2 separate regions of the Homo sapiens genome follow, and region 2 is linked to region 1. Evidence: fine-mapped expression QTL. A gene starts in region 1. The other region holds a variant in brackets. All regions are shown on one strand. Distances are between the middles of the regions. Region 1 holds the start of TNFSF13 (TNF superfamily member 13). Region 2 holds the start of MPDU1 (mannose-P-dolichol utilization defect 1).

Region 1 (14,028 bases):
TGCCTCTCTTCCTGGCCATGCCTCCTCTGGATTCAGATGCAAATAAAGAAAAGAGGAAAAAACGCAAAACTCCTAACTTAAGATCTTCCCGGTTAACGCGGTCCACAAGGGGCCCTTCAGGGTCTGTGCCATCATCTCTCCCCAGTCCAGAGACAAGGGAAAATGGCTAAGCAGCAGGCCTCAGAGATCTTATTTCTAAGATCACCAGGCCAAACCCAATAGCACTGCCAGGTTCTACGTCTTTATTTTAATACCACCAGGGCTGTCCTTTGAGGGCCCAACAAGGGCAGTTTCTTTCCTCAGGGACATGATAACCGTGGTACTTGAGGAGAATGCAACTTGCACGTGGAAACTGGACTGGAATGGGAGACAGTTCTCTAACACCCTGGATGAACGGGGGGCATGGGAAGGCTGCGGTCATCTCAAGTGCAGATGCCAGGGATATGGTTCAGGGGGCAGAGGCTGATAAACGGGGAAGAACTTTGAAGGAAACTTAAAGAGAACCGAATCAAGACGCTGGGACAGAACGGAGCGCACAAGCCAGGCCGGCCCAGCCCCCTCCTACTTCATCCTCGGGGACCAGAATGCAACCCGGCACCAGTCCGGTCCCACGAGCTTGGATGGCTCGGCGCACACGGGCCTTAAGAAGCCCCTATGCGGGCCTCTGGGCCCCGGTTCGGTGGGAGCGAGGCCCAGGAATGGGAGAGGCCAAGGCAGGGCTGGGGGGAGGGGAGGGGGCGTCCTCACCGGGAGCGGGGAAGCCGGGCGGACGGGCCCGAAGGCGGGCGTCTCCGGCCTCAAGCTTCCCGGCTCATCTCTCCGGCGACGGCGGCGGCCCCGCCACTCCTGCTGTCTTTAGGCGCAGCCGTCTCAATTCAGGATTCCAACGCTTCTGGGCCGCGTGCCGCGCCGCCGAGCACCCCGCCGCGCCGCCTCTGGCTCTGCTTCAGCTTCAGCTTCCACCTCCACCTCCACCTCCGCCACCGCCGCCACCAGCGCCACCGCCGCCGCCGCCACTCCTCCCCCCCTCCTCCTTCCCCTCCCGCGAGCCCCGGGCCCACCGGCAGCGGTGGCGCACGATTAGTACGTCACACCCGGCGAAGAGCGCCGGCGCGGCCACCAAGCGCGCGGTCCCGTCTACCCGAGGACGCCGGCGCCACGGGACTGGCCAGCCCAGAGCGCTACGCGAGGCTGCGCCTGCGCACATCCGCCGCCCGGCCGCGCGTGGCGGCCCCGCCACTTTCCCTTTTGCGCCGCGCTCTGTCTTCTCCGCGCTCGCGGGCCTGACCCTAGCGGCATCCCCAGTACCTTGATCCGGCGGGGGGCGCGCCACAGGAGAGCCAGGAGGGCGGGAGATCCCCGTACGAGGACCGGGCTGAGGCGAGGCAGTGGGGGAAATGGAGCCGGGGTATCATTCATTCTATTTTATTTAACTTTAAGCAGGGCTTGATCAGAAAGAAGAGCTCAGAGGAGTGAGGCAACACCAACACCAGGGCGTACGATACACCCGAGGCTCCTCCGACACCAGTTCCAGCCCGGAAGGGCTTGGAATGGCCTGCCACGCCGGGGCAATGGAGCGCGTGAAAGCCAAACCTTGGGACCCGAAGAGTAATTTGACTGCGAAGGCACCGTCATCGTCGGGCACCCCCTGTAGACGGGCGCATAATAGCTACATCTCTGGAGATAGTGATGGAAACTGGGGTCCGATAGATGGAGAGAAGGACGTAGGATAAGGCTTCTTGTGGGGTGAAGAGGCAGAGGGCACCTGGAGAGAGGTGTGGCATGGAGAACCAGGGGTTTTCCCTAGCAGAGGGCGGCTTCGTGGACTTCGGCCAACCGGCGGGTGCTTCCCTCGAGCGGCCGCTAGATGGTGGTGCTGTTCTGGATGCTTCCAGTGGGCCCCGACCAGGTCTGGACAATGCCTGGCGCCCGTCCCCCGCCCCTCATCTACACACACGCAAGAATTCGGAGCTCCATGGGGAACAGAAGCAAGATATCCGTAAAATCAAAGTCTAGGGGGTGGGAATGAAAAGGGAAAAGTGAGGAACGGGGAGCCAAACCCAGGAAGACGCCTCTGTTCCTGCACATTCCCTCTCCTTTATATACTCAGCTCTTGGCTGTCTCCAGTATGTACCCACCCTGGTCTTCCAAGCTGGGAGCCACTTTTTATAACACAATCACAGTTTCACAAACCCCAGGAAGGTTCCATGTGGAGAGAGGTTAAGTTTCGCCCTTGCCCGGGGAATTATGACACTCAGAATATCCCCTTGGTGTAAATGGAAGACACCTGAGAAAAGAGAGAAAGTAGATTCGCAGTGAAGCACAGCCATCCAGATGCCCTGTTTCCCCCTGCCTTCTCCAGCTCCACCGTTCCTCTGCCTCCTGTAAGGACCCGGCATTCTGCACTTCACTCCTCAGACCCGCCTCTGTTTAGGTTTCCAACCTCCCTCCTAGCGGTAGCTCCCTGCACTGCTACCCCCGGTCAGAGACGTCCTGCTTTCGGCTGCCCACACGGCTCTCACCTGCGCTATAGCAGCTGTTGTAGGCCCGGTCCGGGTGGGAGGGCATACTTCTTATACATCGGAATAGAGTCTCCTGCCTTCCTTGGCCTTCTCGAGACACCACCTGACCCATGGTGAAAGTCACGTCTTGAAACAGGACCTGGCAGGGAAGGGAGATGTTGAAGAAAACAGGATGGCCTGGCTCAGTTCTGGGAGGCCTCAGGAGCGCTAACGAGGGAAGAAAGAAGGGTCTGCTGGGTTTGGTATGAATAGAGGGGTCAGGAACCCTCAGTAGGGGGCCAAAGAGGCCCTCTGTGAAGCTCAGAGTGTGGCTGGGGTTACCTGGCTATACAGCAGATAAACTCCAGCATCCTGGATTCGGACACCATATCCTTGGGCCTGTAGGCCTCTCCCACGCCTAAGAGCTGGTTGCCACATCACCTCTGTCACATCGGAGTCATCTGGAGGTGAGAGTGTGTCGGTCAGGACTTCTTGGCACTCTCAGGTGCTTTTTGGTTCTTTCCCTTTCACCTATAAGGACCCCTTGAGCCCAAGTGCCAGCCCGAGTTCCTGGTTATTGCCCCTCCCCAAAGCCATTATTTAAAATAGTGCTCACCCTTGGAGGTGGCGTTAATGGGAACCAGGTGCAGGACAGAGTGCTGCTCTGAGGAGAGAAGGAGGGAATCTCAGCCGCATCCACTTTCCCCCGTTGTGCTGTTGGCAGCCTCCACCCTCACCCTGACTCGGGCTTACAATCCCCACGCTGCTTGATCACCTCCCACCCCTGCTGCACCCTGGAAGCCTCACTCTTCTGTTTTTGGGTGAGCACTGCTCTCCTTTTCCGGGATCTCTCCCCATTCTCCCAGGCTTCCAGGGCATCGGAACTCTGCTCATGGAAAGAGGGTCAAGGTTAGGTTAAGATGCGAGGGTCCCAGCCAGCCTGCCTTCCCAGCCCTCCCCTGCCCCCGAGATGCCTCAGATCTCTCACGCACCTTTTCCCAGCACCCTGAGTGTTGGTGCTGGCTGCCCTCCAGGATTTGTTAGGTATGAGAAGCATTAACCTTTAACAGTTTCCTTTCCTGGAATGGCCGCGCCCCTGACTTCCAAACCGGAGACCCTCTCTTGCACCCCCTTGAAACTTTGCAGACCAGGAGGCCCAGAGACCCCCCATGCTAACCATCCTCTCCCAGACACCCTCCTCCCCTCACTCACCTGCTCCGGGAGACTCTGCCAGGGATACCCTTCCCCATTCTGGGAGGGGCCTCCTGTCCCCTGCAGCCGGCTCACCTCTCTCCTGAGGCTCTGCAGCTCTGTTTGTTGGGTCAGCAGAGCCATGGCACAAGCCACGGCCCCCAGAGCTGCCCCCCAACTCAACCAGAGGGCAACTGAGAGTGCCGGCTCTCTGACTGGGCCCCCCATGTTGCCTGGAGGCCCTTTGGGGGCTAGCAAGAAAGGAGATGAGGCTGGCATGAGCTGGGGACCCTGCCAACAGCTGTGGTTTCAAGAGTGGGGTAGCAAGGAGGTGGCGGGGCGGGTAAGGGTACGGGCAGTGGTGCAGAAGGGAAGAAGGTTGTTACGCAAGGAGAAATAAAAAGGAACTTGAAAATAAAAAGGAGGGAGGAGGAAAGCAAGCTAAGGGTACTGTTAGTGCTCCTGGCACTCCGTCGTGGGGCCAGCGTTGCCTTGAGACCCTCCACCCTCCCTCAGCCTCAGGAGAATTAGGTTCCAGTCCCTCTAGGAAGGACAGGGCTGCCAGTGACACCCAGGAGGAACAGGCAGTGCGCAGGAACCCTGGGGCGGCCCCAGGGTTGGGGGAGGGAAGGTTGGCTGGCTAGAGGGCATTGTGCCAGGAGCAGGATGGGGGGCCAAGCTGGGCAGTGTCCAGGGTCAGGGCGAGGGTGGAAGACCCTCGGGGTCAAGCACAGCAGAGATCGCTGGGGCAGTTCACTAGGGGTGACTGAAGGTGGGAAAGGAGGGGTGGGCTCGATGGGGAGGAGAACCAGGGGCACGGAAGCAAGAAACTGGCTGAGTTCTGGGGTTAAGGCTGGGCCGGGTGTGTTGGAATAAGGCCTGCACTACTCCCTGTGCTGAAATTGGCAAGCAGGACTTCCTGTTTCCCGAGAAAAGCTCTTACATAAGGCTCTGGACGAAGAGACAAAGCAGCGGCCTCAAGCCCCCCGGCCACTGCGGGATTCCTCCCCAGCACACAGGGTTCCGGGTTCCCGTGTGCCTGCTGACTCTCAGCCCCTCCTCCAGGCTGGCTCCTGCCCGCCCCACCTCCCAGCCAGGGCCTGTGCCAGCACCTGCTGAATGTCCGAGGCCACCAAGAGGAAGGGCCCCTGCTCCTCCCAGCCAGGAAGGGATTTCCCCGCAGGAGGAAGTCTGCCTCCTAGGCCAAGGAGGCCGCTTCTGCTGTACCTTGGGCGGAGGATTGATTTTTTTCCTGGGCAGTGTGCCTTCCTACCTCTGCTCCCACCTGGGGGCTGGAGGCATGGAGGTCCCCGCCCCCAAGCCTGAACATCATCCCGGAGTTCCAGCTGTGCCGCTCCGCAACGCCCCCCTTCACGTGGCCCCCAGCTACCCTGAGAGTGTCCCCTGAGCCCCAATAAAGAGAGAGACTATGACTTATTCTATTTAATATCCATTTATCAACATTTTGTCACAATAATAATAAAAATAATATCTGTTTTAAAAATCCACAGGGAATTCTCAAGGGAGGAGCTTGTCTTGTTTCTCGCCCCTCACATTTGGGAACTCCTGGCCTAGGCCCAGTCTCTTTGGCTTCCTGCCGCCAGGTCCAGCCCCTCTTAGTGCCTGAAGTGGGGTCTTCTGGACCCATCCTTGCCCACAGAGTACAGTGAACACAATGCCCTGGGGGTCTGTGGCCAGGGGGGAGTCGAGATCACTGGGGGCCTCAAAGGGTCAGGGATTGGGGAGCTAGTGAGGTGGAGAGTGGGCGGTGGGGGAGTTGTAAGATAAGAGTGGGAATACTGTATTTATGTGGGATGGAAAACACGTGAACAGGCCCAGGCAGCCTCTAGAGGGAGGGGCAGGTCTGGAGCAAAGAGCGGCTGAGGGTGGGGCAGAGGGGACCGGGTGCCCAGAGAGCTGTCGAGGGGAGCCGGCAGCCTGGGACGACTGCGGGGAGACCAGGGCCCCTCAGTGAACCTGGAAGAGTCCGAAGTAGGTGAGGAAGGGGGCAGCCTTGAGATGGGCCCAGGGGAGGGTGCGGATCCGCAGGGAGGACCCTGGCCGCAGGGCCAACAGCCCAGACACCTGGCAGAGGCGGAGCTGGGGCCCGAGGGAACTCGCCGCAGTGGCTGAGAATTCCTCCAGGCAGCGCAGGGCCAGCACACCATCCACCAGCAAGTCCAGCTTCAGGTAGACAGCCTTCCCCTCATCAAAGTGCACCTGGGGTGGGGACAACAGGCCGAGTCCAGGCCTCTGCCTGCCCTCGCCTCAATTTCCAATTTCCTCAGCGACGCAGGCATCCCATCCCACCCAAACCCCAACTCACCCTCCCAGCCCTGTAGCTTGTCCCCCACTCTCCTGGCAAACCCTTCGCCACTCTCTTACTGCGTTACCCATGCAGCCAGATGGGGCTTACCTGACAGTACAGGTAGTAGAGCCCAGCCCGGGTGACTATAAACTCCCCGATCTGGCGGTTGTAGCGCAGAGGGCTGGAGCTGTTGATTCTGGCTTCCTCCCAGCCACTCACTGTCCCGTCCACACCTGAACACGGATGCTCAGAGATAAGGAAACGTCTCTCTACAGGACTCCCCCACACTCCCCAGGGATCCATTGAGCATATGAACATTCGGCGCCCACTTTACCCAGAAGACACATAGATCACCCCGGGCAAGGGAGGACCCATCCCCTATGATGCCCATAGTTGACTAGGAAGTTATGTGAAAAAATCTAATGTATATGGCCAGAGACATTCAGGGCAGATTGTCACCTGCAGTCACTTCTGGGGAGAAGAGTAGAACTGAAGGAGAAGCGTGAGGGGATTTAATGTTTTACTTCATGGATATCTATATTATTTGCTTCTTTTATATGGAGGATGTAAACATACATTATCTGAATTAGTACAACTAAAAATAATAAAATGAAACCCAATTGTCCATCAACAAAATGTCTATCCATATAATGGAATATTATTTGGCCATAAAAAGAGTGAAGTACTGATACACACTATGGCACAGATGTGCCTTGAAAACATCATGCTCAGCCAGGTGCAGTGGCTCACGCCTGTCATCCCGGCATTTTGAGAGGCCAAGGTGGGCGGATCACCTGAGGTCGGGAGTTCGAGACCAGCCTGGCCAACAAGGTGAAACCCCGTCTCTACTAAAAATACAAAAACTAGCAGGGCATGGTGGCAGGCACCTGTAATCCTAGCTACATGGGAGGCTGAGGCAGGAGAATTACTTGAACCTGGGATGGGGAGGTTGCAGTGAACCAAGATCATGCCACTGCACTCCAGCCTGGGCAACAGAGCTAGACTCTGTCTCCAAAAAAAAAAAAAAACAAAAAAAACGCTCACTGGGCATTTTTATTTCCACCAATGGGTTCCCACAACCTGTGCTCTGCAGAGTCTCCAGCCCTGAAGTTTCCTTCCCTTCCTTACCCTGCCAACTGCACCATCTGAACAGCAATAGCCCCTCAAACTCATCTCAACCAACACTGAGCTGACCCCCCTCATCCCACTCTTGCTTTACTGTCTGTTTTCCACATTTGGCTTCTGGTTTTGCCACCAGGGGGATATTCAAGCCTCCCTCTCCTTTACCTACATCATTAATCGATCACCAGTTCCTATCTATCCTGCCTCCTAAATAGCTCTCTCCCCTCTCTCCCCCATCTGGTGCCTCTGTCTGGTTTTCACAGCATTCCCTGTTTCCATTCTGGCTTCCTCCAGTTTATTCCCTACACAAAGCCACAGAATGAGTCTCTAAGATGCAGACGTAAGCCCGCCTCGCCTCGCCTTCCTCCTTCCGATGGCTCACCTCAGAATAGTTCCCACATGCCACCGTGTGGCCTGGCTTCTGTCTCCAGCCTCATCCCCATCTCGCTCCTCTAGCACTTTCTGCTTCTGCCACGCTGAACTTAGAGTCCCCCAGCCTCATCATGCTCTGGGCAAACCCGGGGCTTTTGCCCCAGGGGCTGCTTCTGCTTGCACCCACCATTCTTGACCCCTTGCCTGTCTTGTCTTACGCTCCTGCTTCAAGGCCCAGCGGCACCTTGCGATGCAGGGAGAGAATCCCTGACTCCACAGCCATGTCTGTCTTCCCCTGTGTTGCCAGGTATCTTGGCCACTTTTATTATTGTTCTTGTCATATTCCACTGTAATTACAAATTTTTTTTTGAGATGGAGTCTCACTCTTGTCACCCAGGCTGGAGTGCAGTGGCACAATCTCGGCTCACTGCAGCCTCCGCCTCCCGGGTTCAAGTGATTCTCATGCTTCAGCCTCCTGAGTAGCTGGGATTACAGGCATGTGCCACCAAACCTGGCTAATTTTTTTTGTATGTTCCTGTAATTACAAATTTATATGCTTGTTTCCTCTCCTAGACAGTGACTCCTTAAGAGTTGGTCTGAGGCTGGGCACAGTGGCTCACGCCTGTAATCCCAGCACCTTGGGAGGCCAAGGTGGGTGGATCACGAGGTCAGGAGATCGAGACGCTCCTGGCTAACACGGTGAAACCCCGTCTCTACTAAAACATAAAAAAAAAATTAGCCAGGCGTGGTGGCAGGCGCCTGTAGTCCCAGCTACTCGGGAGACTGAGGCAGGAGAATCACTTGAACCCGAGAAGGCTGCAGTGAGCCGAGATGGCGCCACTGCACTCCAGCTGGGGCAACAAGAGCAAAACTCCATCTCAAAAAAAAAAATGGGTCTGACCGGCTGGGCGCGGTGGCTCACGCCTGTAATCCCAGCACTTTGGGAGGCCGAGTTGGGTGGATCACGAGGTCAGGAGATCGAGACCATCCTGGCTAACACGGTGAAACCCCGTCTCTACTAAAAAATAAAAAAAAATTAGCCAGGCGTGGTGGCGGGCGCCTGTAGTCCCAGCTACTTGGGAGGCTGAGGCAGGAGAATGGCATGAACCCAGGAGGCGGAGCTTGCAGTAAGCCGAGATCGCGCCACTACACTCCAGCCTGGGCGACAGAGTGAGACTCCATCTCAAAAAAAAAAAAAAAAAAAAAAAAGAGTCTGGATATTAGTTGCTGTGGGCACCTAGCCTGGCCCCTAGCAAACAGTAGGTCTTCAATGCCTGTTGAGTCAATGAATGAATGAATGTCTGGATAATTGCCAAAATAAGTGGTCTATACAGAGGGGAGGAAGGCTGATCTGGGCATGAAGAGTAGGGAGGGCAGAGAAGAGAGGGCATTCCTAGCTACGAAGCCAGCCTAAGCAAAGGCTGCTTGTAGCCTAAGGGCATGGTGTGCCCAGGAGCACGGAGGGCTTGCCTGGTATATCACTTGTCTCCAGCCACAAACCTCACCTGGACATTCCGTCCTGCCTGGCAATCTTACATTCCCCCACGAAGCTTGCTTTCATAATCAGCAAGTTGAGATTTTGTACCATTTCTCCTCAAATCTCCTGTCTCCATCTCCCTAGTTGTCCAGAGGACCTAGAAGTCATCGAGCAAAGGTTCCCTCATCTCCCCCCAGCAAATCTACAAACCCACCTGGTCTCTTGTTCTCCTTTGACCCTCTGGTAATGGTGGGAGATGTGTCCTCTCTTCTTTCTGGAAACTTCCCTCTCCCCTTTTTGGATGTGGCCCCTGCATGGACCCCTCACCCCTGCACCAGCCACCTCGCCTTTCATGCAGACCATGTCCAGTACACAGGCACATTCTAGCTGGGTTCAAATCTTGGCTCCACCACTTAGTATCTCATGGCCTCAGACAAGTTGTGTAACCTCCATCTGTAAAATGGAGGTAATTAGAGTATCTTCCTTTTAGGGCTGTTGTGAGGATTAGATAAGACCAAACACAAGTGCCAGACACAGTGCCTATCTCAAGAAAGCCCTCAGTACATGTTAGATCAGATGAAAATAGTATTGTTCACAGAACTAAACTTTTCCTTGGTCCACACACCCCTCCACCTACTGGCCTATTTCTCTGCTCCTTGTTACAGAGAAACTTCTAAAAAGGGTTGTCCTAGGCCGGGTGCAGTGGCTCATGCTTGTAATCCCAGCACTTTGGGAGGCCGAAGCGGGTGGAACACCTGAGGTCGGGAGTTTGAGACCAGCCTGACCAACATGGAGAAACCCTGTCTCTACTAAAAATACAAAATTAGCCAGGCGTGGTGGCGCATGCCTGTAATCTCAGCTACTGGGGAGGCTGAGGCAGGAGAATTGCTTGAACCCGGGAGGTGGAGGTTACGGTCAGCCGAGATCGTGCCATTGCACTGGATCCAGCCTGGGTGACAAGAGTGAAACTCTGTCACAAAAAAAAAAAAAAAAAAAAAAAAAAAAAAAAAAAAAAAGGTTGTCCCTGCCTCCAGTTCCTTATTTCTCATTTTCTTCTCAACCCAATGCACACTGCCTTCCTGTTCTAACTATGCCACTGAAACCACCCTCTTTAAGGTCAGCAGGACTTTCACGTTACCAAACCCAGCCATCATTTCTCTGTTCTCATTTCATGTGATCTCTCAGCTGCATTCAACACAGACAGCCACATCCTCCTTGAAACAGTGGTTTCTCCGAATCCAGGATGCCACCCTCCCTGGGTTTCTTCCTCTCTCTCCAGCTTCTTTTCAGTCTCTGCTGGTTTTCCCCTCAGCTCCACTTCAAGATGCCCAAGAGTCTCAGGGCTTCATTCGTGGGGCCCTTCTTTCTCCTGGCGTCTCACCCAATCCTGTGGCTTTAAATGCCATCGATAGGCCGGGCACAAGGGCTCACACCTGTAATCCCAGCACTTTGGGAGGCTGAGGCTGGCGGATCACCTGAGATCAGGAGTTCAAGACCAGCCTGGCCAACACGGTGAAACCCTGTCTCTACTAAAAAATACAAAAATGAGCTGGGTGTGGTGGCACCCGCCTATAATCTCAGCTACTTGGGAGGCTGAGACAGGAGAATCGCTTGGACCCAGGAGGCAGATGTTGCAGTGAGCCAAGATCGAACCACTGCACTCCAGCCTGGGTGACAGAGCGAGACTCTGTCTCAAAAAAAAAAAAAAAAAAGCCATCCATATGGCCATGACTCCTGGCTTTATCCGTCCTGACCTAGCCTAAGCTAGTCGACAATGTCCAGCCATCCATTTCTGGAATTTACTTTATTGTCATTTATCCGCTTGTTTATTTTAGACTTCTCAACGTTAATAATTATCTTACATACTTCCCAACCTATTTATTCCTTGGTCAATCCCTTCTTAGGAAATGGCATCATTCTTCCCAGAGATACCCAAGTTAAAAATCTAGAAGCTGGCTGGGTGCAGTGGCTCATGCCTGTAATCCCAGCACTTTGGTAGGCCGAGGCGGGCAGATCACTGGAGGTCAAGAGTTTGAGACCAGCCTGGAAAACATGGCAAAACCCCATCTCTACTAAAAATACAAAAATTAGCCAGGCGTGGTGGCACACGCCTGTAATCCCAGCTACTTGGAAGGCTGAGACGGGAATCTCTTGAACCTGGGAGGCAGAGGTTGCAGTAAGCCGAGATTGCACCACTGCACTCCAGCCTGGGTGACAGAGCGAGACTGTCTTAAAAAAAATAAAAAATCTAGAAGTCATCTGTGATTCCTCCCTTTCTTTTATTCTTCACCTCCAACCCATAAGTCAGTAATATCTTCAGGACACAGGCTGAACCCATCCACTTCTCACCATCTCTGCTGTGAACCCCTCGGCTGAGCACTCCTCATGCCTCCCTGCCTCTCACAGTGGAAAGACATTCTGGTGAGGGGGATGGTATGTGCAAAGTCCAGAAGAGGCACACCGGGAGCAGGGGTGTCAGCGCAGCAAACATGAAGACAGCATAAGAGTGCAGGGAAATTAGGTTGAGACCAGACCACGAAGAGACTGGAAGCCATGTAGAGAGCCAATACCACAAGAAAAGTGAAGTTTAGGGGCTCAGCATGGCAGCACAGGTCAGATGGAGTGGAGGGGTAGGGAGGGTGTGGAGTGGGGAAGCAGCAAGAGGCTGGATTTGAGGTTCTGAGGTCACGGTGCTGAGGTAGAGGGTGGGGTAGAAATGGAAAAGATGAGCAGACACTAGCAGCATTTAGAGAAAAAGATCATCAGAACGTGGAATATGGAGGAGACAGAAGAAAAAAGAATGAAAAGTGCTTCTTGGAGAAGAATGAGGGCTGAAGGAGAGAGCTGGGACAGTGATTTGCTGGGGGAACTGGGCAGAGTTCTGGGGAAGAGTAGGGGTCTTTCATGGGGTCCCACGCCTGGGTCACAGAGAGAACCAAGACCTTCATGAACTGGCTTCTGTGGTTCTGAGACTGATGGCCGGGAAGGGAGTGGGAGGTCAAAGGTTTTCAAGGGCCCTTTTCCCAGGAGGCCAGTGCTGTGTCGGGGGATGGGGTCTCACCTGCCTGCGCTCCGTCCTGTCCAGGTCGTGGATGAACTGTAAAGTACAGGAAAAGGCTGGTGAGACCTGCCCTGACCCTCTGCCACCTGCCCCTCTCCTCCTGGGTATGGCTCACCCATCACCCACCTTCATAATGGGCTGCGATCGCTCTTCGAGCCCGTGTTTTCCGGCCTTTAGGTGCTGAGGATCAAGGAAAGACAGATGAGCAAAGCGGGCCCTAGTGGGGGTCCCAGAGCAACTCTCCCAGCCCCATTCCCCTCTCAGGAACCCTGGCATCCTTATTCTTGTCCAGACTCCTGGCCTTAGAATCTCAGGCCTCATCTTCCTCAGTAAGTAGAGTGACTATAATTTGTCATCCACACTGGGATACTGCTGAGAGCAAAACGGGAAGCTGCTATTAATCACACCGAGATAACAGGTGGGGGCCAGGACAACTGCATGCCGACTTGGACACGTGGTCATCCGGCCACCCCATCATCCCATTCCTAAGTCTCTTTGCCTACCGGGGCCCAGGCCTCTGACTGCCAGGCCTAGTCTCCATCAGGATCCCAGTAGTTCTTCTAACTCATGGCCACCCTGCCTTCCTGTTTGGGGTAGGGTCTGAAGGAGCACATCCATATGACAGAAGGAGCTTCAGAGGAGGGCGAGAATCCCTAGGTTTGAGTCTTGGCTGGTTAGCTGCATGACTCTGAACTCCTTTCACCCTCCGTGCCTCAGTTTCTCCCTGTGGATAATGGTTTTTGCTCTGCCCGCTTCCTGAGGTTGGGATAGAGGGATGCTCACCACTTCTGCGAGGCCGAACTAGTCGGTTCAGGAAAGGCGCAGGATCCTGGCTTTCTTCTGTCTGGGGATTCAGTTCCTAGGGGAATTAGGGCAGGGTTCAACCACAGACTCCCAGAGATATAAAGTGAGACATACGGGGCCTGTCAGGAGAGCCACCAGCCAGCAATAGACACAGAAGTCAGGGACAGATTAAGCCCCTCAGCCAACTACAGCTGGGGCCCCGGGCAAAGGTGAAGCTGGGAGTCAGGCCCCAGTCCTCACCCTTTCCTCTAGACCAGCTACACTTTCCCACCCACACACACAACCAACGCAGACCCTGCATTCAATTGGCACATTGCACACATGCCCGCACCCAGTCACCACGCACAGAGGATACACACCCTGTACACAACCGCACCCCTCTTCCACGCAGACTCACATATCTTATACAACCACGTCACCCCCAGCCAATAAACACCTCAGACTCAGGTGGCACAACCCCAGCACAAACCCCTCACACAGAGTTGTCACCACGCACACACACCCCTGCAGACACGCACCCATGCACGCACTGTGTTCACACACACCCTGCACACACCTCGAGTACGGCTGGCACAGCTGCACACACCTGCAGCCTCGGCTGTGCACACTTCCCATGCCCCAGCAGCCTGCAGACCGCGCCCACGCCCACTCACCGACGGGTCCTGGTCCTCCTCTGCCACCAGCTCCTCCTGGGCAGGCTCCTGCTGGGAAGGAGGGAGCGTCACCCTGTGCCGCTCCACCTGACATCTCACCCTCCACCCATCCTCCCTTCCCCTTGCCTTCAGCCCACGCGGCCCCCAGCGGCCCCTCTGCAGTCTCAGCTCCTGATGTGCCCAAGAAGGGGTGCGCAGCGGGGCCTCACCTGGGCGGACAGCGATGCCCGGCTCCCCAAACTGACCACGGCCAGCAGGAGGCCGAGGCAGGCCAGCGCCAGGCCCAGGCCCAGCGCGAGCGGGACCAGCAGGGCGGTGCCCGGCTCCCCCCGGCGCCCCCTCCGCCTCTGGCTCCGACGGGCGGCCATGGGGGCGGGGGGCTGTGCCTGCCTCACCGCCCCCCCATCCCGGGACCCGAGGGATCGGGGGAGGGGGAGCCGGCGGGCGGATCGGGCCGGGGAGAGGGAGGGGCAAGGGAAACGGGGCGGGAGGGGGCGCTGGGGACAGGAAGCCGGACGCTGTGTGTGATCAAACTCCGA
Region 2 (12,158 bases), 29 kb before region 1:
TTCACTGTACAGTATTTAAAAAGAGAATAAAAAAATCCAAATGGCTGTCTGGCTCCTGTGCCTTCTTTGTCCCCAGTTTGGTCCATTTGTTTCTCTAGGACTGACCTGCCCTGGCCCCTGGCTCTTGTTTTCTGTTCCTCCACATCTGACTTCTCTTCATTGTCTCTTGTCCCAAAGATGGTCTTACTTCTGGGAATTCCTGACATTCCTAAACTCCCCAGGCCCAGGTTCTCCCTCCTGGTTCAGAGGAGGGGGGCTTGTGCCTTGTTGCTTCTCCCCTCCCCCAAGTTTGCTGGTAGAGGGAGTTGGGCCACTCCTATACCCTGAGTCACAGCACAGGCTAGGCAGGGCTGCTCAGAGCTGGAGCTGTTCCTGTAGAAGCTGAGAGCCAAGGCAGGCTGCTTAATCCGATTACCTGAGGCCTGGGGCTTGGGCTGGGCCGTTGGGCAGAGTGGGGAGCAGGGTTCCCTCACAGCAGCCTCTGGAGCCCGGGGTCCGGCCTTCTTGGTGGTGTTCTGTTCTGGCTCCAGGCTTTTTCTCCGGCATGCGCATCACAGACCTCTTAACTTGGGGAGTTGTCCTGGGTTTCCTGGCTCCCCCCTCATGACTTGGACGACTGAAGCTAAAACTTGCCATAATTCAATAGCAGTGGAGAAATATAGGTTTAGGGACTGGAGTTGGGAGGGCTTAAGTTTTCTCACTTGGGAAAGGGGTTGAATCACGGCCCAAGCACCTGCTGGAATGACTCAGGAAACAAAAATGGTCTCCCTCCTCGGCCTTTCTTGCCCCAGGGGCAGTTCTGGGATTTGAGGAGCAACAGGCACCAGGAAAGGGGTTGGGGTGGTGGTCCGGGATGCTCCCAAGCTCCTCTCAGCACAACTCGGGCCCTGAGGGCACTTCATCCCCCTGTGTTTGATCCCATTGTGGAAAGAATTGGCTTTAAATTGCCTGTGCTTCAGGGAGGGGAGGCAATCAGCAACGGGCTGGAAGGCCTGACATCAGGTCTTGGGTGGGGGGGGCGGGGGGCGTGGCACCCTGAGGGTGTTGGGGGCTGGGACAAACAGGACACCTGGGTTTACCTACGGGCTGAGGATGTTGGCGCCCTTAAGGAGGTGCAGTCTTATGGGAGGGACAGGGGCGGAGTCAGTCTTTAAAAGCTGTTCCCAGGTCTGGCCCGCCTGCCACAAACGCTGAGCCCAGGTGGGAGAGGTCTGGCCTATCCGCGCCTGGCAGCTGTCGGAACTCCGGAGACCACAAAGGGGTTTATGGTTTACCCCCTCCACGGAAGGTCGGTCTGATCGCAGCTGCGGGTCGGGGAGAGGGACCGGGGGTCCCCCAGTCAGTAGGCCTCAGAACACCTCTTCAGTGCCGGGGCACCAGACAGCGGATTTTGCATTCGACTCTCCCCAAAGTGTGCCGAACAGGTTGGAAGCAAAGGCTCCGGTTTAAGCTCTGGGCTTGGGGATAAAATACACTTTTTAAGGACCCAAGTTCCTCGGCAACGACTCCAGACTGGGAAGACCTTTCCATTTTCAGGATCGACGCTTCACGTTGAGGGGAGGGCATTCAGGACGCCCTCTTAAGGCTTCTCCCAACCCATGGCGCTACCAGGCTCCTCACAGGACCAGGCCTGGAGCCTGGAGCCTCCGGCTGCCACGGCTGCTGCCTCCTCATCTTCGGGACCCCAGGAGCGGGAGGGCGCTGGGAGCCCCGCGGCCCCCGGGACGCTGCCCCTGGAGAAGGTGAAGCGGCCGATGAACGCGTTCATGGTGTGGAGCTCCGCTCAGCGCCGCCAGATGGCGCAGCAGAACCCCAAGATGCACAACTCCGAGATCTCCAAGCGCCTGGGCGCGCAGTGGAAGCTGCTGGACGAGGACGAGAAGCGGCCCTTCGTGGAGGAGGCCAAGCGGCTCCGCGCCCGACACCTGCGCGACTACCCCGACTACAAGTACCGGCCTCGGCGCAAGGCCAAGAGCTCGGGCGCCGGACCTTCCCGCTGCGGACAGGGAAGAGGCAACCTGGCCAGCGGCGGCCCGCTCTGGGGGCCGGGGTACGCGACCACCCAACCGAGCAGAGGCTTTGGGTACAGACCCCCCAGCTACTCGACAGCCTACCTGCCTGGCAGCTATGGGTGAGTGCCTGGGAAGCGGGCCGAAGACGGAGGCCCATGCGCCCCTCTTCTGGAGCCTTGGTGGGGGCGGATGCCGGAGGACGGGAGCCCACCCAAGCAGAGGCCACTCGCGGCCAAGGTGTGGCGGGCGCAGGCCCAGTACCTCCGGGGCCTGTGTAGGGTGGGGCGGATCAGGGTTCTCCCAGAGGGCGTTTCCATCTCAGTCTGAAGGTGGTGGGCCCTGTAGGGTCAGGTGACTGACCCCTGGATGCGACTGTGTCCTAGTTAGATGCCCCGTTTCCCCCCTGCTTCTGGCCTGTGTGTGACCCAGCTTCCTCTCCCAGCCCCCAGGGCAAGGAGAGGCCGAGCTCATTCTGCCCTTTCCTGGCCTGACTCCCCAAGAGGAAAACAGCCGTGCAGCACGCAAGCCCGCTCCCGAGCGTGCCCCAACAGGGCCGCGGGCTCTCCATCCCGGGGTCGGCTTCCATGCCTGCTGCGCCCAGCGGGCTGGGTAGCCAGGGCTGGGTGGGTGGCACGCTCTACCCTGTCTGCCCAGAACTGGCCAGACTCACCTCCAACCCAGGGAAGTGCCCTCTAACCTCTTGTTTCTCTCTGCAGCTCTTCCCACTGCAAACTGGAAGCCCCCTCACCGTGCTCCCTCCCTCAGAGTGACCCTAGGCTCCAGGGGGAACTGCTGCCCACCTATACCCACTACCTGCCCCCTGGCTCTCCCACTCCATACAACCCTCCCCTTGCTGGTGCCCCCATGCCCCTAACCCACCTCTAACCCTCATGGACGCAGACCTCACGGGACGGGCCTCATCCTCCTTTTTTAATCCAGCAGCATCCCCTACCCCAGGCTGTCAACCCTTTCTCCTGTTGGACTACAGTTCAGAGGCAGCCTGCAGTCCTCCCATGATAGCCAGGGAGAGCCGCACAACATACAATTATATTTTTGGTAGTATTAAACAGTTTTGTATTATTCAACTGAGTCTCCAGTCTTTATTGTCCCATCTGTTCCCCTCACTGCAGCAGGAACCAGCCCCATCTCCACTCCCTTCCGCCTAGACCTGCCAGAGCAGGAACCTCCTCACCCCACCCTGGGGCCCTGCCTGAGTCATTCTCCGTCCCCCTTCCCCCACCCCAGCACTGGGGTCCGGGAGACAGTCCCAGCCGGGCTGAGGGAGGGAGGCAGCCACAGCCTCCCAGTCCCTCCACTCTGCCGTCCAGACTCAGTCTTCCAGGGCCAGAAGGGAAGCAGGGAGGCTGGAGGACAGGGTAAAACATTTGCCCAGGATAGTGTTACACAGCTGGAAATTGCTGCTAGAGGAGGAGGCTTGGCTGAATGACTGAATTAATAGTACATGTACAGGGCTTACGAAAGCACTCAAATGTCAAAATTTTGGCTTGGGAGACTCTACCCCCATCCTCTCCTTTTCTAAGGATCTGGATCCATCAACCATTTGTTTCCACTAAAAGAAAACCCTGGCTCAGAAAGTCTGCAAGTGCAGAGGAATGGAGGATGAGTAAGTCACACCAGCAGGCTGGCTCAGATGGGGAGAACCCTGAGGTTGGGTGAATGAGTGGAAACGGAATGACTCCAGTAGCTGGCTCTACTGCGCCTTTTTCTGCTTGTGGGGAGGCTTTGCATTCCAGTAGAAGAGCAGCTGGGCGGCGATGAGGCCGTTGCAGAGAGAGGAGACCACAAAGGTCCCAGCCATCAGGGGATCTCCGGTTTCCTGGTTGCAAGAGACAGAGCCAGGGTTACCCTTCAGCATAGCTCAAGAAAGGTTCCCTTATGGACAAAGGTTCCTCACGGGGCAGCTTTGGCCCTTAGCTGGGAGAAGTAAGACGAGGTTTTAGTGCCTTCTAGAAGGAAGATGTTGCACTCACCTGAATGGAAGTGAAGATTCGGGCCAGGGAGCCCCCAAACAGCAGGAAGACTGTGATGGCTGAGAGCTGGCCTGTGTGCCCGTTGTGGTAGTTGGTGGCTGCCTGGAGAAGCTAGGGGAGGAGTTGAGACCTTTGGCTCTGTCACCTGAGCTCTTCCCATGCTCCCCCAAGTACAACACCCCCACACTTTGATCTTCTACTCTTCCCCCCCACCCTGCCCCCACAACATCTTGTCCCTTGCTCCTGGTACCCACCCTCCCCACCACCACAGCAGGCACATTGGAGGCCTGGAGCAGGGTGACTACAGTCAAGGGCGTCAGAGGTGAGAGAAGCACCAGCAGGACCAGGCCGTAGCAAGCGAGGAAAGCGACACCTAGGGGTGGGGAGACAGGAGTCCTTGTCAATCTCTCCACATCATTTGGCTTTCCCAGACCTGAGTTCCCAGCAGGGTTCCCAGGAACCACACAGCCTGCTCTTGGGTAAGTCCCCAGCACCTTTCACAGTCTGTCCTCTGTAGTGCATGACCAGGAAGCAGATGGTGATCGTCTGGAGCATCAGGAATAAGGCTTCACCCCAAGAGCTGCAGAGTCAAGAGTTGGGAGGAAGAAAGGCGGGCCTAGAAAGAGGCAGGGAAAGCCTCCATAGCCCATCCATCCAGGGACACTATGCTCTGATCACGCTTCTCTACAGCCCCCACACGGGACTGGCTCATTCTGAATCGTGGCCATTCTCGGGATGCTCACCCCTTCTCAAGATCACCTCCACTGGTGATGATTAGGTTTCTAAAAGGGCTTAAAACTTTCCTAGCCCCTTGTCCCTTTTTTTTTTTT[TTA/A]AGACTGAGTTTCGCTCTTGTTGCCCAGGCTGGAGTGCAGTGGCGCAATCTTGGCTCACTGCAACCTCTGCCTCCCAGGTTCAAGTGATTCTCCTGCCTCAGCCTCCCAAGTAGCTGGGATTACAGGTGCCCATCACCACACCCAGCTAATTTTGTATTTTTAGTAGAGACGGGGTTTCACCATGTTGGCCAGTTCGAACTCCTGACCTCAGGTGATCCACCCGCCTCGGCCTCCCAAAGTGCTGGGGTTACAGGTGCAAGCCACTGGGCCCGGCCACTTTGCTGCCTTGTAACCTCCTTCACCTTAATCCCCATTAGAGTTGTGGGTATTACCCTTGGGGTGGAAGGGTGGGCCCCTCACCTGAATGGGAAGTTGTTAGTGATGCTGTAGACCATGGTCCCAGTCAATGCCACTAGCTCCAGCATTACAGACTGGAGACTCAACCCTTCAGCACTCTTGGCTCCCAGGATTTTAAACACCTGGGGCAGCTTTACTAGGGGAAAGATGAGAAAAGTAGGACTGAGGACTCTCCATTCTTTGGGATGCAACACAACAGCTATAGAACGAACACCCACACAGTTGATGGCCTCTCAGCACCTCCACCCCAACCCAACAGCTGGAAAGAAAGATAAGAGACATACCTAGAAGTGAGCCAGCCACAATGCCCAGCCCCAGGCCTTTGCTGAGGAGAATCTTGAGGCAGGGGACTGAGGAGAGAAAAAAGGGTAAGCAGACAGGAGATGTCTGAAACCCAGGCCAGGGCTTGAAGCTCCTGTGGGCTCTCCCCGAGCCCCCTTACCCACACCAGGGTCTTGCATTGTCTTGGGGGGAGGAGAGGCGGAGGGCAGTGAGAAAGTCCTGGTCCTTCCTGCTCCAAACCACCACACTTTTTTTTTTTTTTGGAGACAGAGTCTTGCTCTGTCACCCAGGCTGGAGTGCAGTGGCCCAATCTCAGCCCACTGCAGCCTCTGCCTCTTGGGTTCAAGCAATTCTCTTGTCTCAGCCTCCCAAGTAGCTAGAATTACAGGCACACACCACCATGCCCGGTTAATTTTTGTGTTTTTAGTAGAGACAGGGTTTCACCATGTTGGCCAGGCTGGTCTCGAACTCCTGACCTCAGATGATCCACCTGCCTCAGCCTCCTTAAAGTGCTGGGATTATAAGCTCGAGCTACCGCACCGGGCCCCAGACTGTTACTTTCCAAAACAGCTTTTCTCCGATGCCTACCACCCCCCACATCCAATCTTCCATTCCCTATAAATTAACACCCAAACTTGGCTTGACCTCCACGGCTCTCCATTGCTTCCCCATATAAAGCTGAGAAATGCCCAAGAGCTCTCTGATCCTTTATTTCCCTTCTCTGGGCCAATGGGTGCCCCATTTCACATGTCTTCTCTCTCCAAAGACAAGTCTTCATACCATTTTTTTTTTCTTATTTTAATTTTGAGACGGAGTTTCACTCTTGTTGCCCAGGCTGGAGTGCAATGGCACGATCTTGGCTCACTGTAACCTCTGTCTCCCGGGTTTAAGCGATTCTCCTGCCTCAGCCTCCCGAGTAGCTGGGATTACAGGCGCCTGCCACAACGCCCGGCTAATTTTTTGTATTTTTAGTAGAGGCGGGGTTTCGCCCTATTGGCCAGGCTGGTCTCGAACGCCTGACCTCAGGTGATCCACCCGCTTCGGCCTCCCAAAGTGCTGGGATTACAGGCGTGAGCCACCGTGCCCGCCCCATACCACTCTTTCTTGAACACTCTGACTGTCCCTGGCCCCTACTCAGGGACTAAACCTTACCCTTTCAAGGCTTGCTTTTATGCCCTGGCCATCCACAACTTCTCTAGCCTTGAAGCCTTCCCCTCAAGGAACTTGGTCTAGTGGGAGTCTGACTCTCACGGGTCATGAATGCGGCTAAAACAAAGTGCCCCACGAGCTCAAGAGAGGTACCATGAACTGACAGGGGCAGACTGACGCTCCCCAAACGGTCTGACGGTGACCCTTGTGGAGCTGTCTCGCAATCAGAAAAAGGAAGGGAGGCAAATTATTCCGAAATCAGACTATGAGCAAACCTGGAGGCTGGAAAGAAAGCAATCAGGGTGGCGGAGCCTTTGGGGGTGCAATGAAGGCCCGATTCATCAGGGGCTTTGAATTAAGTTTAACCCTGCTAGCGATCTAATAAAGGTTGGCATGATTTGACTTAATTTTTATTTTGTTTTATAAAAGTTGACTCTTCGTTTTTCATTGTCGCTACAGCACAAACTCCACAAAGAAGTAATTCCACCCGGTGACTTCCCCACTGGCACTAATATGGTGTCCTCCCTCTAAGGAGCCCGAGACACTTCCGCCCTTCTCAGAAGTGACTTCCGTCCAGCTCGGCATGGCGGCAGTCACTGCCGTCACTTAGTCGCCGATCAAGGCTTGGACTAAGGGCCCACGGTCACTCGAGTAGGACTTGGATCGGATGCTGAATAAAACTCACCGTGAAGCAAGTCCCACTGAACGAAAAGTTGGTCGTAGCATTTCTCAGGTAAAAGAATCGGCACGAGCAGCCGTTTAAGCGGTCCGTCCGCCTCGGCCGCCATATTGCAAAGCTAGCTTCCGCCAGTCTCTCCAGACCGCCATTGACTTTCGTTGCGCGTGCGCGCTGCGGACACTCCGCCTCCCGTTCTTTTCCCGCGGCGAAGCTGGCCCGCCCCGTGCCCCGCTCTTTCTGACGCTACCCACCCTCACTCTAGTGGCGTAAAATAAGTCTCAGTCAGGGACCACGTTTTGGACGCGCTGTTGGAATTGTAAAGCTTGCCGAAGCTGCACGCCTGCGCGGTTAGACCTCCCACGCCTTTGTTGACGCTTCCAGTTTGGAAGCCAGATTTACACCCCTGCCTTTCTCCGCTCCTCCTGCTGGGCGCCATCTTGTCTTCTCCTAGCACACTTTGTATTGTTCGAAGTTGAGAGAGAAGGAGCCGGAGTCTCCGAGGTGGCGTTGGGTGGGGGCGCTACTAGCTCCCGTTCTCTCAGCGTCTCTAGAGGGAAGGGCGCCGGTGGGAGCAGGAGAGTCTGCACCGGGCAGGCCTCCTTAGGTGCCGGGTTGCGCGCAGGGCCCTGTGCTTGTCTCGCCTCCGGTTGGCTCAGGCCTCGGAGCATGAGTGCGCCGGCAACTGCTGGGCCCGGGACAGTGAAGCAGAGGAGGAGGTGGGGGAGGCGAGCCCAGGTCGGGGAAGGGCAGCACCTGAATCACCCTTGGGGCCCAGACCCCCAAGAGTCTCCGGGGAGCCGAGGCCTGGCGAGGCAGTCCCGGGATTCGCCCCCTCCCCGCTGGCCCGAGGGCGCACCACGTGCTGGGCAGAGACTTCGGCGAGGCCGAGTGGACCCTGCAGCGCTGCTTGGGAAAGGGCACCTTGGACTACCTGGTGGGGGCGTTGTGCTTCGTTACCGACCGCCGGGACGCCAACCCACGGTGCCCACCCGTGCGTCATTCCGCTGTGGATCAGCCCTTTGGCGGCCCCCCTCCAAAGTCTACAAGGTCACACGGATGTCTGCAGGCAGAGGTGGGGCTGCTGGGGCCCTGCCAGGTGAGGGCTGCCCTTGTGGGGCAGTCTCTGGGCCTTGGAGGCCGGAAGCCTCCTGGGGCTCCTACGGCTGGGGGGTGCTGCTCATCCTGGCTCCCAGGGATTGCGCCGTAGCCAGCTGTAATGGGTGGGACTGGCGCTCACTGCTGGTGCAGGCTGTGGCCATCTGGGAGGTCCTTTCTGGAATCTGGACCTTGGCTGTCCTGAGAGTGACACTCCTCATCTCAAGTACTGGGGGCATGAAGTTAGGCTTGGCAGGTGGCCCCGTGTGGGGGGCATGCTGTTCCCAGGAGCCCCCAGTGGAGGTCAGAGTACCCACTGCTCCTTCTTGATTCAACCCCTTGTAGGTGGGATAGGAGCATGCCAGGTGCTGCGAGGGTTTAATCGGGCTCTTCTGCTGGCCTTGAATATGGTGGACAGGACAGGACATTCTCATTGCTCAGGAGCCACTGGCGCTGCCTTTGGGAATGAAGTTCCACAGCCCCCCACTCATTGCTTTGGCTGTCTGCTGCATTTGAAACTGTACGAGGGTCAGGAAGAAGGCTGCGGGGATGAATGGCTCTACCGGCTTGCCACGGATGGGGAACTGGAGCAGCCAGTGGCCCCAAGAGGAGGAAGGAAGGGAGGCACGGCAGACCCAACACCAGCTGTGCCAGGCTTTGGGGGGTGAACCCATGAGGCATCGTCACACACTGACATTTTCATCCCTCCTCAGCAGCTGCTTCCGGCTCCCTGAGACCCAGCCATGGAAGGCATAGAAAGGCATGTGACAAGAAACTCATGGCTTTTAATCCTGGCAGGACAAGGAAAACCCCGTCAAAGATTTGCATAAATTTTGCTGCTCTCCTGCTGGGGGGGGGGGGGGGGCAGTTCGTCACATTTAATAAAATTCTCTCCCTCCCTTCTCCCGACTGCATTATCTCATATTTATTTATTTGAGACAGTCTGGCTCTGTCGCCCAGGCTGGAGTGCAGTGGCGCGATCTTGGCTTAGTGGCGCGATGACGGCTCACTGCAACCTCCACCTCCTGGGTTCAAGCAGTTCTGCCTCAGCCTCCCAAGTAGCTGGGATTACAGGCCAGCTGGGATTACGCCGCCACACCTGGCTAATTGTATTTTTAGTAGAGACAGGGTTTCACCATGTTGGCCAGGCTGGTCTCAAACTCCTGACCTCCAGTGATCCACCTGCCTCAGCCTCCCAAAGTGCTGGGATTACAGGCATGAGCCGTCATGCCCGGCTTTCTTTTTGTTCTTCAAGAAAGGGAAGGAAAATAACATTGTCTTTGAGCCAGTTGCGTGTCGAGGAAATAAGGGTACCCCCCCACCACACCCCAACCCCCTCAGTGCCCTGGGGTTTGAAGCAAATGCTCAGAGGGCCTGGTAGGCGGATGGGCGTCTCCGGATGATGCAGAAAGCAATAAGCACCAGGGCGAGGAGGCCAAGAAGGATCAGGCCGATGATGAGAGGCAGCAAGATGGACCGGTCACTGGGGCAGGAGAAACCTGGCGGAAGGATAGGGCAGGTAGGTATTTGCAGTGACGTGCTGGTTGGGATAAAGGTGGGAGGAGGGAATGGGGGGATGCTGGGGAGTAGGAGATTGGTGAGGAGCTCACCGCAGTGACTCAGCAGTGATAAAAGGGGGAAACTGGCAGAGTCTTGTAGAGGATGGAAAGAAAGCTGCCCTGTAGCCATGACAAGCTGGGAGAGCGAGATTTGGGGGGTTAAGAAGAGAGATGAGTGGCTTATGGGCCTGGGGAAGGGGTTTTCAGTGCAGTGGGAGGATTCTAGGAGGGAAGGAGTAGGTAGGTCTTACTTTGCCCAAAGACCCCTGTGTGGGGCAGCTGAGCAGCCTGGAGCCTCAGGGAGAGCAGGTCGAGGTGGACAGCTGGTGAAAGAATGATGCTCGAGTTGCTGCAACTGAAGCTCTGCCCCAGGGGTGCTTGGAGATCTCGAAGGGATGCATTCTGAGCCGAGAATGTCCACTCTGGAGGAGTGAGGAAGGGTCAGATCCTATCCACCTCCCTGGCCCCAGCTTAGTCCTTTCAGGAACCCTGGCGTCTAGTGGTAGCAATGAGAAAGGGAAGGAGGTTACTTACGTGCTGCGTGGGGGAAGGACACATTGTACTCCACCGCCATGTAGCTCAGGTAGACAACCTTCTGCTGGAGGTCCTGTGGGGCGAAGAGGAAGGCGCAGGTGGTATCCCTCTCCACAGAGGAAGGAGTAGCGTGTGGGATTGGGAGGGGAGGGGCGCCGGGAGGCTGAGTGAGGGGTGAGACTGAGGTCATGGCTATACCTGCATGAATCCAAAGCTGAGGTGTCCATAGGGGAATGAGAGAAGCAGGTGGGGATGGGCACCCTCACAGCTTCCCTGGACCTTGGTTTTGTTGGGGTTCAGTACAGAGATGCCCCAGGCCTGCGGAAGTTAAAGACTGGAAGGTCACAAGACTGCATGCGATGCCGGCCAAGGTTCCCTGTCCCCTCTTCCTTCTTCCCTCTGAGCCTATATCCAGTCCTGCCTCCCTCCCCTCTCATCCCCCAGTTTTAGCTTTACCTCTCCTCCACCCTGGGTTGTGTACATGACTCGAATCTGAATCTGGGCTTGGAGGTGGACACAGGGCTGGGAACCATTGGTCCACGTGTAGTCTCCAATGGTCTCCTTGGAGGTTGGGCTAGGACTCGGAGAGGGTGGAGGTGGTTCTGGGTGGGCAGAACTGGTGAATCCTGGGCTGGTGGCAGTGCTGTTGCTTGTTGGATGAACCGTGGCATTTCCATGACTAGTGGTGGCAGGACTGTGAGTGGCAGTTGAGGGTCCCTGGCTGGTGGCAGTGCTATTGCTTGTTGGATGAACTGTGACGTTTCCATGGCTGGTGGTGGTGGGGTTGTGAGTGGCAGTCGTGGGTCCGTGGCTGGTGGTGCCTGTGGTGGTTGTCCTGTGAGTGGTGGTTTTGTGGCTCTTGGTAGTCCTGTGGCTGGTTGTTCCAGTGCTCTCTGTAACCGTGGGTGTCACCGTGAAGGATGGCAGCAAAGTAGCTGATTTTTTGTGAGGACAGTCATTCCCTGTCCCCTGGGCTTTTGGCAGAGAGGAGATGGTTAGCAACCCAGGGCAGGCTCCCTCCCAGGGGCCCCCTCCCCTCAGCCTCCTTCCTCCTTACCTGCCAGTAGCCCCAGCAGGGCCCCCGAGAAAAGCACAGCCAGCCTCATGGCTGAACCGCCTCACCCAAAGTCCAGCTAGGCTGTCTGCACCAGTTGCTCAACCCTGCTCCCTCAGCCCTCTCTTGGAAAGGAGGAAATGAAAGTCTCACTTCCTGTACTGGAGATGATCCCACCCACAGCCTGACTCAGGGGCCTCAGCTCTAGCCACCTCTCTCTTAGTCATTAGTTTTTGTAATTAAGTTAGGGGACTGTTGGCCCTGCTTCATCAGGGCAAAGTCAACAGTGTCACATGGGTGCAAACGGAGTCCTAGGGCAGTTGATCCACAGGGATCCATGTGTCAAACTCAGCGAAACTTGCTTGGCAGTTGTGGCAAGTAGCTATGGGAACAGCTGAGGTACAGGCCCCTCCCTTGGTGGGGAAATCGGTTTCCACTCCTTTCCCCTGGACCTCTGGGCTGACCCCTGTACTACTTCCTCTTGGCTGAGGCATGTGAGGGGCTTGTGACCATCCACACCCAGCCCTTTACAGAGGGGCAGCACTCCAGTCAGCATTGTCATTCACAGAGCCGAGAACATGGCTTTCCAGCGTCTGAGAACTCAGATGGTGAC

The links. PIP is the estimated chance that this variant, and not a neighbour inherited with it, causes the effect.
Region 2: its variant is fine-mapped to the expression of TNFSF13 in whole blood (INTERVAL, PIP 0.94).

Annotation. Positions count from the first base shown.
Region 1 is chr17:7,548,983-7,563,010 of GRCh38, reverse strand. TNFSF13 (TNF superfamily member 13) reads right to left here and starts at 4,261. Exons shown (of 6, transcript NM_003808.4): 1 at 3,714-4,261; 2 at 3,309-3,387; 3 at 3,118-3,165; 4 at 2,844-2,962; 5 at 2,523-2,661; 6 at 1,410-2,287. The coding sequence starts at 3,971. The coding sequence ends at 2,178. TNFSF12-TNFSF13 (TNFSF12-TNFSF13 readthrough) reads right to left here and starts at 13,953. Exons shown (of 11, transcript NM_172089.4): 1 at 13,699-13,953; 2 at 13,490-13,537; 3 at 12,816-12,891; 4 at 12,159-12,212; 5 at 12,033-12,068; 6 at 6,109-6,233; 7 at 3,309-3,387; 8 at 3,118-3,165; 9 at 2,844-2,962; 10 at 2,523-2,661; 11 at 1,410-2,287. The coding sequence starts at 13,857. The coding sequence ends at 2,178. It overlaps TNFSF12 (TNF superfamily member 12), which reads right to left and starts at 13,953. Exons shown (of 7, transcript NM_003809.3): 1 at 13,699-13,953; 2 at 13,490-13,537; 3 at 12,816-12,891; 4 at 12,159-12,212; 5 at 12,033-12,068; 6 at 6,109-6,233; 7 at 5,130-5,912. The coding sequence starts at 13,857. The coding sequence ends at 5,661. It overlaps SENP3 (SUMO specific peptidase 3), which reads right to left and starts at 1,092. Exons shown (of 11, transcript NM_015670.6): 1 at 748-1,092. It also overlaps SENP3-EIF4A1. RefSeq lists enhancers at 1-322, 1,589-1,838, 4,213-4,262, 5,073-5,132, 4,718-5,511 and 1 more and silencers at 949-1,028, 13,759-13,838, 13,869-14,028.
Region 2 is chr17:7,579,117-7,591,274 of GRCh38, reverse strand. It overlaps MPDU1 (mannose-P-dolichol utilization defect 1), which reads right to left and starts at 7,423. Exons shown (of 7, transcript NM_004870.4): 1 at 7,310-7,423; 2 at 5,478-5,543; 3 at 5,197-5,329; 4 at 4,498-4,583; 5 at 4,258-4,376; 6 at 4,004-4,114; 7 at 3,063-3,849. The coding sequence starts at 7,412. The coding sequence ends at 3,724. It overlaps SOX15 (SRY-box transcription factor 15), which reads left to right and starts at 1,181. Exons shown (of 2, transcript NM_006942.2): 1 at 1,181-2,131; 2 at 2,729-3,097. The coding sequence starts at 1,599. The coding sequence ends at 2,897. MPDU1-AS1 (MPDU1 antisense RNA 1) reads left to right here and starts at 7,183. Exons shown (of 2, transcript NR_136402.2): 1 at 7,183-7,357; 2 at 9,112-9,301. CD68 (CD68 molecule) reads right to left here and starts at 11,637. Exons shown (of 6, transcript NM_001251.3): 1 at 11,549-11,637; 2 at 10,948-11,465; 3 at 10,690-10,809; 4 at 10,492-10,564; 5 at 10,209-10,379; 6 at 9,164-9,897. The coding sequence starts at 11,597. The coding sequence ends at 9,764. It also overlaps FXR2. RefSeq lists enhancers at 1,463-2,037, 5,978-6,850, 7,085-7,614, 6,851-7,725, 7,725-7,774 and 3 more. The variant TTA/A (reference allele first, on the strand shown) is at 4,834.